Linked DNA regions of Homo sapiens. The protein of the gene in region 2 interacts with the protein of the main gene of each other region in a pairwise test. Each region holds a gene or a part of one and is shown on either strand. Other genes may lie near its edges.

Region 1 (7,296 bases), on a different chromosome or scaffold from region 2:
ACGCAGCACTTTTGCTTAGGGCAGCCATTCTCAACATGTAATCTGATAGAGGACAAAACTATCTTCATAAAAATGTGTTAAGACGCCATTTGCTTTTTCACTCTCATTCTTTCCCGAGTGTTCAGTGGAGTTTTCCAGAGGCGGCAGGAGAGACTGAGAGCAGAAGCCGACTCTGATTTAAGAGAAGCCCAGCTGCCATCTCTTAAACCAGACTTTAAAGAGATTTGCAAAGGTACGAAACAATGCCACTCTTAGTACATTTTGTGTTATGAAAAGTTATTTTTAATAAAAAAGTTATATTAACACGTTAGATATTTAGATTTAAAAAAATTTTTTTAAGACGTGAGATCTCACTATGTTGCCCAGGCTAGAACGCAGTGGCTATTCATGAACTCGTTTATGGCACACTGAAGCCTCCAATTCGCAGGCTCAAGCGGTCCTCCCACCTCAGCCTCACAGGTCTAACAGGCACGCACCACTCCCAGTGTATTGTTATTTTTAAATAATGTTTTCAAATTTCTCAGCCGGGTGCAGTGGTTCACACCTGTAATCCCAGCACTTTGGAAGACGGAAGCAGGTGGATCGCTTGAGCTCAGGAGTTGGAGAGCAGCCTGGGCAACATGGTGAGACTCCTAAAATACAAAAATTAGCTGGGCGTGGGGGTGCACACCTATGGTCCCAGCTACTTGGGAGGCTGAGATGGGAGGATTGCTGGAGCCTGCGAAGTCGAGGCTGCAGTGAGCCATGATTGTGCCACTGCACTCCAGCCTGGGTGACAGAGTAATGAGACCCTGTCTCAAAATAAATAAATAAAAATAAAAACATTTTAAATTTTCTCAGTACTAAGTTCTAATATAGTAAATAGCAATAGATATGACCCACTAAAACAAGCTCTTGGGGTCCTCAATAGTTTGGGTTTTTTAAATTTTGTTTTCTTTTTTAGACAGAGTCTTGCTCTGTTGCCCAGGCTGGAGTGCAGTGGCACGATCTCAGCTCACTGCAACCTCCGCCTCCCAGGTTCATGGGATTCTCCTGCCTCAGCCTCCCAAGTAGCTGGGATTACAGGCGTGCACCACCACACCCGGCTAGTTTTTATATTTTTAATAGAGATGGGGTTTCATCACATTGGCCAGGCTGGTCTCAAACTCCTGACCTCAAGTGATCTGCTTGCCTCGGCCTCCCAAAATGCTAGGATTACAGGCGTGAGCCACCATGCCCTGCCTGTTTCTTGCATAAAGCCATTATGATTCTCTAAATATCTTGTCCATTTATTAGTGTATTTAACTGTCTTTCTGCCCCCTCTAGAATGGACACACCATGAGGACAGAGATTAGGACTCTGAAATCAGGCAGACCCGAGTTCAAGTTCTGCTCTGGCCAGATTTGCCATGTGACCTTGGGCAAATCATTTCCTTCTCTGATCTTCAGTTTCCTCATCTGGAAAATGGGGATAATAAAGTCCACTTCATTGAGTGTGTAACGAGATCATGTGGCTAAAGCACTTGGCATATAGATCTCTCTACATGCTGTAAATCGTTATGATTGTAGTTATTTTTTTAGGCCTGGATGCTTTGCGATGGTCTTGGCTACAGAGGTTTTAAAATCCCTGGATATTGGAATCTTGCAGCACAGAGTCAAGAGCGTAGTCTTTGGGTGGGGCAGAGTGGCTCATGCCTGTAATTCCAGCACTTGCGGAGGCCAAGGCAGAAGATCACTTGAGCCCAGGAGTTCGAGACCAGTCTGGGCAACAGAGTGAGACCCCATCTGTACAAAAAATACAAAAATTAGCCGGGTGCAGTGGTGTGCATCCATAGTCCCACTACTCAAGAGGCTGAGGCAGGAGGATTTCTTGAGCTCGGGTCGGGGGCGGTGAAGGCTGTAGTGAGCCATGATCGTACCACTGCACTCCAGTCTGGGCGAAAGAGCAAGACCCTGTCTCAAGAAAGAAAAAAAAAAAAAGAGCACAGTCTTTGAAGTCAAACATATCCATCTTCAAAGCCCGGTTTGATCCCCTAACTTGCTGTGTAACCTTGGGCCTCCATCTTCGCCTCTCTGAGATCCAGTTTTCTCCTCTCTAATGTGGGGTAGTTTCCACCTCATAGTGTTACCAGGAAGACTGGATATATTAGATAAACAGCTACAGCTCAGGATTCAGCCAGAACTGTATTTGACTCCTACTTATAGACTGAGTAATCTTGGATAAGGAGTTCACCTTTTTGGACTTGTATCTTCATCTATGAACCCCACCTGCACTGGGAGAATTGCTGGTAGTATTCCAGAGGTACTGATATTAGTTTGTTACTTATCTTAAAGAGTTCTGGGCTAGGAGCAGTAGCTTACACTGTAATCCCAGCTCTTTGGAAGGCCAAGGTGGGAGGAGGCCAGGAGGTTTTTGTTTGTTTGTTTGTTTGTTTGTCTGTTTTGGTATAGATTCTTGCTCTGTCACCTAGGCTGGAGTGCAGTGGTGTGATCTTGGCTCACTGTAGCCTCTGCCTCCCGGGTTCAAGCAATTCTTCTGCCTCAGCCTCCTGAGTAGCTAGGACTACAGGCACATGCCACCATGCCCGGATAATTTTTGTATTTTTAGTAGAGATGGGGTTTCACCATATTGGTCAGGCTGGTCTCGAACTCCTGACCTCAGGTGATCCACCTGCCTTGGCCTCCCAAAGTGCTGGGATTACAGGTGTGAGCTACCACGCCCAGCCGAGCCCAGGAGTTGTAAGACCAGCATGGCCAACACAGTGAGACCCTGTCTCTACAAAAAAAATTTTTTTTAATTAGCTGGGCATGGTGATATGCACCTGTAGTCCCAGTTCCTCAGGAGGCAGAGGTGGGAGGATCGCTTGAGCCTAGGTGTTGGAGGCTGCAATGAGCCATGATCATGCCACTGTATTCCAACCTGGGCAACAGAGCAAGATCCTGTCTCAAAAGAGAGAGAGAGAGAGTTCTGAATTCTAGGATCTTTACTATGGAAATTGGGATATTGGGAATTTTTTTTTTTTTTTTTTTGAGACAAGGTCTGGCTCTATTGCCCAGGCTGGAGTGCAGTGGCACAATCTCTGCTCACTGCAATCTCTACCTCCTGGGCTCAAGGCATCCTCCCAACTCAGCCTCCCATGTAGCTGGGACTACAAATGTGCACCACCATGCTTGGCTAAATTTTGTATATATATATACATATATATAGTGTGTATATATATATACATATATATGTGTATATATACGTATATGTGTGTATATATACGTATATATGTGTATATATACGTATATATGTGTATATATACGTATATATGTGTATATATACGTATATATGTGTGTATATATATGTGTGTGTATATATATATTTTGTGTGTGTGTGTGTGTGTGTGTGTGTGCGCGCACGTAGAGAGAGAGACGGGGTTTCACCATGTTGCCCAGGCTGGTCTTGAATTCATGAGCTCAAGTGATCCACCCATCTCAGCCTCCTGAAGTGCTGGGATTACAGTATGAGCCACTGTGCCCGGAAGAATGTTGGGATACTTTAGAAAGGTATATAAAGTGCTTGGGAATACTCCTGGCAGATTGTAGATATCCAATACATTCTTTCTGGACAAATAAATGAACAGCCAACTGAAATGTTGTTTTAATTTTACCACGTCATCACCAGTATCAGGGATTATGATTTTTGGTCAACATTTTGTTGATTTATCGGGTGGCCATTATGATTCCAGGGGTTTGAGATTGCACATCTTGCTGTCCATGGCTGTGTGAGTGTGGAAGGGAAGGATGGGAGGGACTCCCAGCCCCAGGCCCTCCTACCTGCTGTTGAGGTGGTCCTGGCAGGAACGCACCTCATCTGAACTGGGGTGGCCTCCTTCCACCAGCTCCTGGACTGTGTGGTTCACGTCCAGAACGCGGCCCATCAGGCTGTTCATCTCTTGGTCCAGGCTCTCGAATCTGCAGGAGGATGGAGATGCTCAGACACCCGAACCCTGCGGACCTTGGTTTTATGAAATACCTTCTACTGGTTCTACTCCTAATTCTCAATCCACCCTTCTTTTCAGCCTCCTTTGTGGGCTCCTTCTCTTCTACTTGCTGCTTATTTTATTTAATTTAATTTAACTTATTTAATTTAATTTAATTAATTTATGTATGTATGTATTGAGACAGAGTCTCGCTCTGTCACCCAGGCTGGAGTGCAGTGGCGCGATTGTGGCTCACTGCAACCTCTGCCTCCCGGATTCAAGCGATTCTCATGTCTCAGCCTCCCATGTAGCTGGGATTACAAGCATGCGCCACCACGCCCAGCTAACTTTTCTATTTTTAGTAGAAACGGGATTTCACCATGTTAGCCAGGCTGGTCTCCAACTCCTGATCTTATATGATCCACCTGCCTTGGCCTCCCAAAGTACTGGGATTACAGGCGTGAGCCACCACGCCCAGCCTCTACCTGATGTTTAAATGTGAGATTCCTCAGCAGCAACTCCACCCTGAGCCCTCTGGGTTTTCCTTCACACCCTTCTTCAATGATTCCACCCAGCCCCACAGCCTTGGTCTTTGCCCCTGAACTCATGACAGTCACACCTCAGTCTCCAGCCTCAACCTCTTACCTTTTGAACCTGTCTTCGACCTCAAAGCCTACTGTATACCTTCTTGGGGCTATTCACACCCACCTGACTCAAATTTGTTCTTCCTCTGGGCCCCCATGTTGGGGACAGCACTGTCATCTGCCAGGCCAGAGCCCTGGGCTTTGTTTTGGAAAATCGCTCCAGCCCATCAGTCTCCATGGCCTGTTTACTTACCTCCCGCCCTGGTCTAATCTTGTTCCGCTCCATCTGGGTCCCCAGCCCAGTTGCCTCTCTGGGTTCCCAGCCACAACTCTTACCCGCTCCAACCTGCCCTCCACATGGCAGCCACTGAGGTCTACTTTAAGCTAGACATGGTCCTCCCATCTTTAAATCAATGTTTCAAAGAACTGGGCAACTGCAGGCACAGTAGGGGCAAGGAGCAGCCCTGTGTTTCCAGCAGTGCCCAGCACAAGACCTAGAAAGGCATAGGCACTCAGTAAACACCTGCTGAATGAATGTATGGATGAATAAGATGCTCAGACAGAGTGGTGCAGAGGGGGAATAGGCATTGTTCACCCACTAATTGAACAACTCATTGCTAAGTCAGCCAACAGACAAGTCAGTATACAATATGTCATGGGATGGTAAGTGCTACAAAGAAATGTAAAACAGGATGAAACAATGGAAAATCACAAGAGTCAGAGCTATTTTAGTAGCTAGGGAGGTGACATTTATGCAGAAGCAATGGGAGGCCTCCCAGCAGAGGGGCCAGGCTGAGGTGTCCCTGTAGAAGCATAGGTCGTTGATTTCATGCTTGGCGAATGTAAGCCTGGGTAACAAGAGCAAATGCTGGGGGAATGCTTCCTCTACCCCCAGGCATTTGCTTCGTATTCTGCATGTATGAACTCATTTACCGTTCATCACAAGCCTGGGTAGGGACTAATATCACCCCCATTATACAGGTGGGCAAGCTGAGGTTCAGGAAGATTAGGCAGGTTGCAGAACTGTCACAAAGCTGGCTATGGGTGAAGCAGGGATTGGAACTCCTAGTTCCAGCTGAGCAAACATGGGAACTGTTGAGCCAATGAAGGTGAGACTGGGTGCATGAGGAAGGGGACCCCGGAGTCCCACATGTGCGCGCTCACCGGTGCTGCACCACCTCGACGTCGTCGAGTGAATCCGGCACACGCATGGAGAGCAGCCATTGCTCCTTCTCGCCGATCCACAGCTCACACGCGTGCACCTCGCCAAACATGCGGTAGACAGCGAGCGCGTCCCGCAGCCACTGGCGCCTCAGCGCCGCCACTTCGGTCACCTCAGCGAACAACTGCTCTGCTTCCACCACGCGCACCTGCAGCGCCACCACCAGTGGCCCTGCGCCACTGGCACCCCCGAGTGTCGCCAGCTGGCGCCGCAGGCCGCTCACGGGCCCGCGATGTGCCTCCACCTCCCCGGTGAGCGCGCGGTGCTGGCGCGCCAGGCGGCGGCTGGAAGCTTCGTCGTGGCCGAAGTCACCGGCGGCTGCCAGGCGGTAAGCGTCGCGAAGCCAGTCCAGCAGCCCGTCGAGGTCAGCGCCGAACTGGTGCAGCGCCCGCGCCTCCTGCAGCCGCCGCTCTCGCCGCGCCGCCGCCTCTTCCAGCCTCTGCCAGCGGCGCCGGGCGCTCGCCGCGCGCTCCGCCAGGCCTACCAGGTGCACGGTGTCTGCTCCCGGGCCGACGGCACCGCCGGCCGCAACCAGCTCCTCGCCACACCGCAGGGCCTGCTGCAGCAACGCTCGCCGCCCGCCCAGCTCGCCCTGCAGGATCTTGTGCTGGGCCAGGAGGCGCGCTGTGCTGGACAGGTCATGCGCGCCGCCCGCTGTTCCCGCTGCGCCCGCTGCGCCCGCCGCACCGCCGCCGCCCGCAGCCTCCAGGAGACGCTCCTTGTCGCGCGCCCAGCTCTCGGCCTCCTCCAGCTCCTGCAGCAGCGCCCACAGGCTCCGCGAAGCCTCCAGCTCCGCGCGTCGCCGCGCTGCCTGCTCCTGCAGCTCCGCCAGGCAGCCGTGCACGTGGTTCACGCGGTTGCAGATGACCTGCGGGTCGCAGGGCTGGTAGCCTGAGCCAGGAGAAGGGGAGCATCCAGGATTGGTCACAAGCCAAGGGGCGCCCAAGAGAGGATGGTGCGGGCTACCTACCCTGTCCTTGGTGTGACTTCATCAGATGCCGGGTCACGTGGCTCCTCCTCCAGGCAGCCTTCCCTGACACCCCAAGGCTGGAGCAGGCTCCTCCTCGACCCTCTCAGGCTTCTCTGCTTCCCCATCCTAGCCCTGACTACTCTGTGTTGTCATTGCCTTGTCCTGTCTCCCCCACTGGACTGAGAGCTCCTTAAGGGCAGGACCTGGGTCTGTCACACCCTATCCCAAACACTGCCCAGCAAAGGGTGGAGCCCAGAGCTGTAGCCTAGTGAATGTAGTGATTTGTTGACTGAATGATGGATGGATTCAGAGCATCTCAGATTCTGTATATTTGAGTGAAAATTGTGCTTATGTCAGAACTGAGTCAAATGAAACTTCTTTGTTTTTTGTTTGTTTGTGTGTTTGAGACAGATTCTTACTCTGTTGCCCAGGCTGGAGTGCAGTAGCGCGATCTCGGTTCACTGCAACCTCCACCTCCAGGTTTAAGCGATTCTCCTGCCTCAGCCTCCCCAGTAGCTAGGATTACAGGCGCCCGCCACCACGCCTGGCTCATTTTTGTATTTTTAGTAGAGACGGG
Region 2 (3,575 bases):
CCTTACAATCTTTTTTTTTTTTTTTTTTGAGACAGGGTCTCACTCTGTCACCCAGGCTGGAGTGCAGCGGCACACTCTCGGCTCACTGCAAACTCCACCTTCCGGGTTCAAGTGATTCTCCTGCCTCAGACTCCCAAGTAGCTGGGATTACAGGTACCCGCCACTACACATGGCTAATTTTTTTGTATTTTTAGTAGAGACAGGGTTTTGCCATGTTGGCCAGGCTGGTCTCGAACTCCTGACCTCAGGTGATATGCCTGCCTCAGCCACCCAAAGTGCTGGGATTACAGGCGCGAGCCACCATGGCCGGCTAATTTTGTATTTTTAGTAAAGACGGGATTTCTCCATGTTGGCCAGGCTGGTCTCCAACTCCTGACATCAGGTGATCTGCCTGCCTCAGCCTCCCAAAGAGCTGGGATTACAGGCATGAGCCATTGCACCTTACAATCTTACAAGTTGTGTTACGTGTTACCACAAGCAAGTTCTGTGCCTCAGTCTTTCCATCTGTAAAATGGGACTCATCATGTAAAGCACCTTGGAGACTGCTGGCTGCATAGGAAGCCTCGTTCTAACGTAGTGTTCCCACCTAGAAGGGCCTTACTGGCAGCTGGCGCTCTCCTGCTGTGCTCTCTGCACCTCCTGAGAGACCAGCAGGGACCGGCTCCGGGCTGAGGCTGGGGCTGGAGTCCAGATGCACAGCGGACAGAAATGCGTAGGAGTCTGGGTTGCAGCTGCACAGACAACACACTAACTTTATTCACACTGGTACAAAAGTAGTTTTTTCTAGAAATGTTCTCTTGCGCCAGAAGGAGAGAGGTTGAGCAGCGCATGGTGGGAGGGTGGTGGGAGGAGGCTGGGCGTGAGGCCAGGGAGGGCAGAGCGCCCAAGTGTGAGTCAGAGGCAGGCCCGGGGCTGAGAAGCAGGGGGAGCCGGGTGTGGCGACCCTCCACCCCATTCTTCCATACTGGAGCATAGGGGGACACACACAGATGTTCAGGGAACTCCCAGAACCCCAGGAGAGCTACAGGAGAGCCAGGCCAGGGAATGTAGGCAGGAGAAGGCTCTGGGTAGAATTGCTACCCATGTCCTTTCCTCTCCTCCTGGCTGCAGCACCCCCATGGGATGCCCTGGGCTCTGGGATGCCCCAGGCTCTGGCATGCGAGGCTGGGCAGGCGTGCCCCTTCTGGCTTTCCCTTCCTGACTCTTCTAGGAAGGGCTGAGCATGCCCAAGAGGTGGCTGGTGGGGCAGTGAGGAGTGGGTACACAGAGATGCTCACACAGGCAAAGAGGGACAGAGGCTGGGCTGCCCGCCAAGGGGCCCCAGGGTCTCACTGGGGCAGGGCCTTGAGGATGGCATTCACTTCCTCCGCCACGGCTGTCAGGGCAAATTCAAACTGGTCCTGAGGAAGGGCAGTGGTAGGATGGTCATGGAGAGGGCTGACCTGTGCTCTGCCCTCAAGATGGGGGGCTTTTGGTGGGGGGAGGGCCCTGGGCAGGTCCCCTGGGAGGAAGGGAGCCCTCCTGGAGGAGGCGCAGAAGCAGGTGGGAAAGGTTGGCAGCTGCTGCTTTCCCTGGGGTGGCCAAGAAGTGGGTGCTAGGGAAGGGTGGGAGCTGGGGTTGGGGCAGGAAGGCATGGTCACCTTAGAGCGGACAAGGCCAGGCCGCTGGTCACGGACATGCTCCAGGGTGGCAGCGATGTCAATCTCCTTCACTCCTGGAGATGGAGGTGGGGATGGGGCTGCTCAGGGGGTGTCCAGAGGAGGACAGGACCCAGAAAACCTGAGGCCTCCTGGAGGCAAAGAGCCTTGGAGGGCTGGGCAGAGCCTGGAGGTTGACAACCTGCTCCTTCTGAGCTCCCAGGACCCTGTGTGCTGGGGAGCCTCTAAAAAGGGCCTGGGGGCTGCGGGCACCGTGGGGAAGCTCCCTACCTTTTGCCATGCGGTTCAGGACCATGTCGATGAGGATGTAGGTGCCGGTCCTCCCCGCACCATCACTGAAACAGGAGTTAGTGACAGGTTTAGCTTGAGATGCAGCAGAAAGGGGGAGGGACGGAGGAGGCGAGGAGGCCTGGAGGCCTGGGGGAGGGGAGGACACTGGGTGACCCGTTGGGGTTGGCTTGGAGAGGGACAGTGAGCCGAGGATGAAGGAAAGCTCATAGCACCTGCACGCTGGGACTTGGGCCTTGAGAGGGGAGTCTGTGACCTGTGGGTGTCATTTGGGCAATGGGACAACCAAAGAGGAGAGCCATGGCTCAGCCCAGAAGCAGAGGCAGCAGGAGGGAATTGGATGGGCCTCTCTAGCCTTCAGCCAGCTTTTTGTGTATAGGGGGCCAATGGTCAATATTTTCAACTTTGTGGGCCACATACAGTTTGTATCACATACTTTTCTTCTTTTTTCTTCACCCATTTAAAACTGTGAATGCCACGCTTAGGTCTTGGCCATTAAAAACAGGTGGTGTGCTGGATTTGGACTATGCCTGCAGTTTGCTAGCACCAAGGGGACAGGCAGGCAATGTGCACAGGAGACGCACACAGGGAGTGGGACCAGAGAGATGAATCTCCTCTCCACCCACCTGCAGTGCACGATGATGGGGCAGGAGCGGCCCCGGTAGCACTTGTTCACCTTCCTGCAACAAGAAATGGGTGTGAGGGCCAGTGGGCACCAGCAGAGAGGGAAAGGGAAGCTGAAACACATGACGTGGGCCTCTCTTTCTTCCTTTTCTCCCCACCTGCCCGGGGCAGAGAGGGAAGATGGTTGGAGAAAGGAGCCAGGGCTGGAGGCAAAGAACCAGAGCTGGTGTGGGTGGCATTGGGCTCGCCTTGTCACTTGCAAGCTAGGTGCCCAAGCTATGCACCTGGAACAACTGATTTAACCTCTTTGAGCCTCAGTTTTCTTACCTGTAAAATGGAGGATAGTAAGAAAAACCTCCTTAGGGTTCTTACAATGATCACATGAGATAACCCATGTAAAGAGCTAAGTGCTAGGTCTGGCACACAATAGGTGCTCAATACATGGTAGCAGGTGGCAACTATTAATGATAATACATCATCATATTAAGAGACACTTCTGCCCAAGTCCAAGGGGATAGCTTTCTGGTGACTTCAAGGGTGTCAGTCTTGCCACATCCCTGCTCTGGCCCTCTGCCATTCTTTATGACCACCCAGGCTGTTTTCCTCCCGACTCAGGCTCCAGTGGTCCTTACCAGTTGTGACATCAGGCTGCCCTGGGCATAGTGTTCCCTGGGCCAGGGGAGGACAACCCCAACCCCTCAACTCGGGACATTGTGCTACTGCTTGTCTCCCTGGAGCAGTCTCACTTCAGCACAGGCATTCTGTGGCTGCGTTATATTCAGACTTGGGGTCCCCTTGGACCTCAGACCTTTCTCCACTGCCCCTGACCACAACTCAGTGAGGAGCAGGGGGCTTCTCCGTCTCTCAATGGACCCATCTAACCTGCCCTTGTCCTTTATGACCTTTCTGCTTTGGGAGTCACCTGCATACTCCTGATATCCCTGCAAGCCAGAACCAGGGAAGACCTTCTTAGGGGTTGTCAGATTGAAGTTTGGAACTTCACAG

The links.
Region 1: the proteins of PTPRN (region 2) and SPTBN4 interact in a two-hybrid assay, tested with the Homo sapiens proteins (one study listed by BioGRID and IntAct).

Annotation. Positions count from the first base shown.
Region 1 is NC_000019.10:40,511,950-40,519,245, reverse strand, and holds part of SPTBN4 (spectrin beta chain, non-erythrocytic 4), read right to left. Parts: intron 6,641-7,296; coding exon 5,692-6,640; intron 3,936-5,691; coding exon 3,798-3,935; intron 1-3,797.
Region 2 is NC_000002.12:219,288,898-219,292,472, forward strand, and holds the end of PTPRN (receptor-type tyrosine-protein phosphatase-like N isoform 1 precursor), read right to left. Parts: intron 2,627-3,575; coding exon 2,573-2,626; intron 1,994-2,572; coding exon 1,929-1,993; intron 1,715-1,928; coding exon 1,641-1,714; intron 1,401-1,640; coding exon 1,329-1,400; 3' UTR 726-1,328; downstream 1-725. UniProt on the Homo sapiens protein: Plays a role in vesicle-mediated secretory processes. Required for normal accumulation of secretory vesicles in hippocampus, pituitary and pancreatic islets.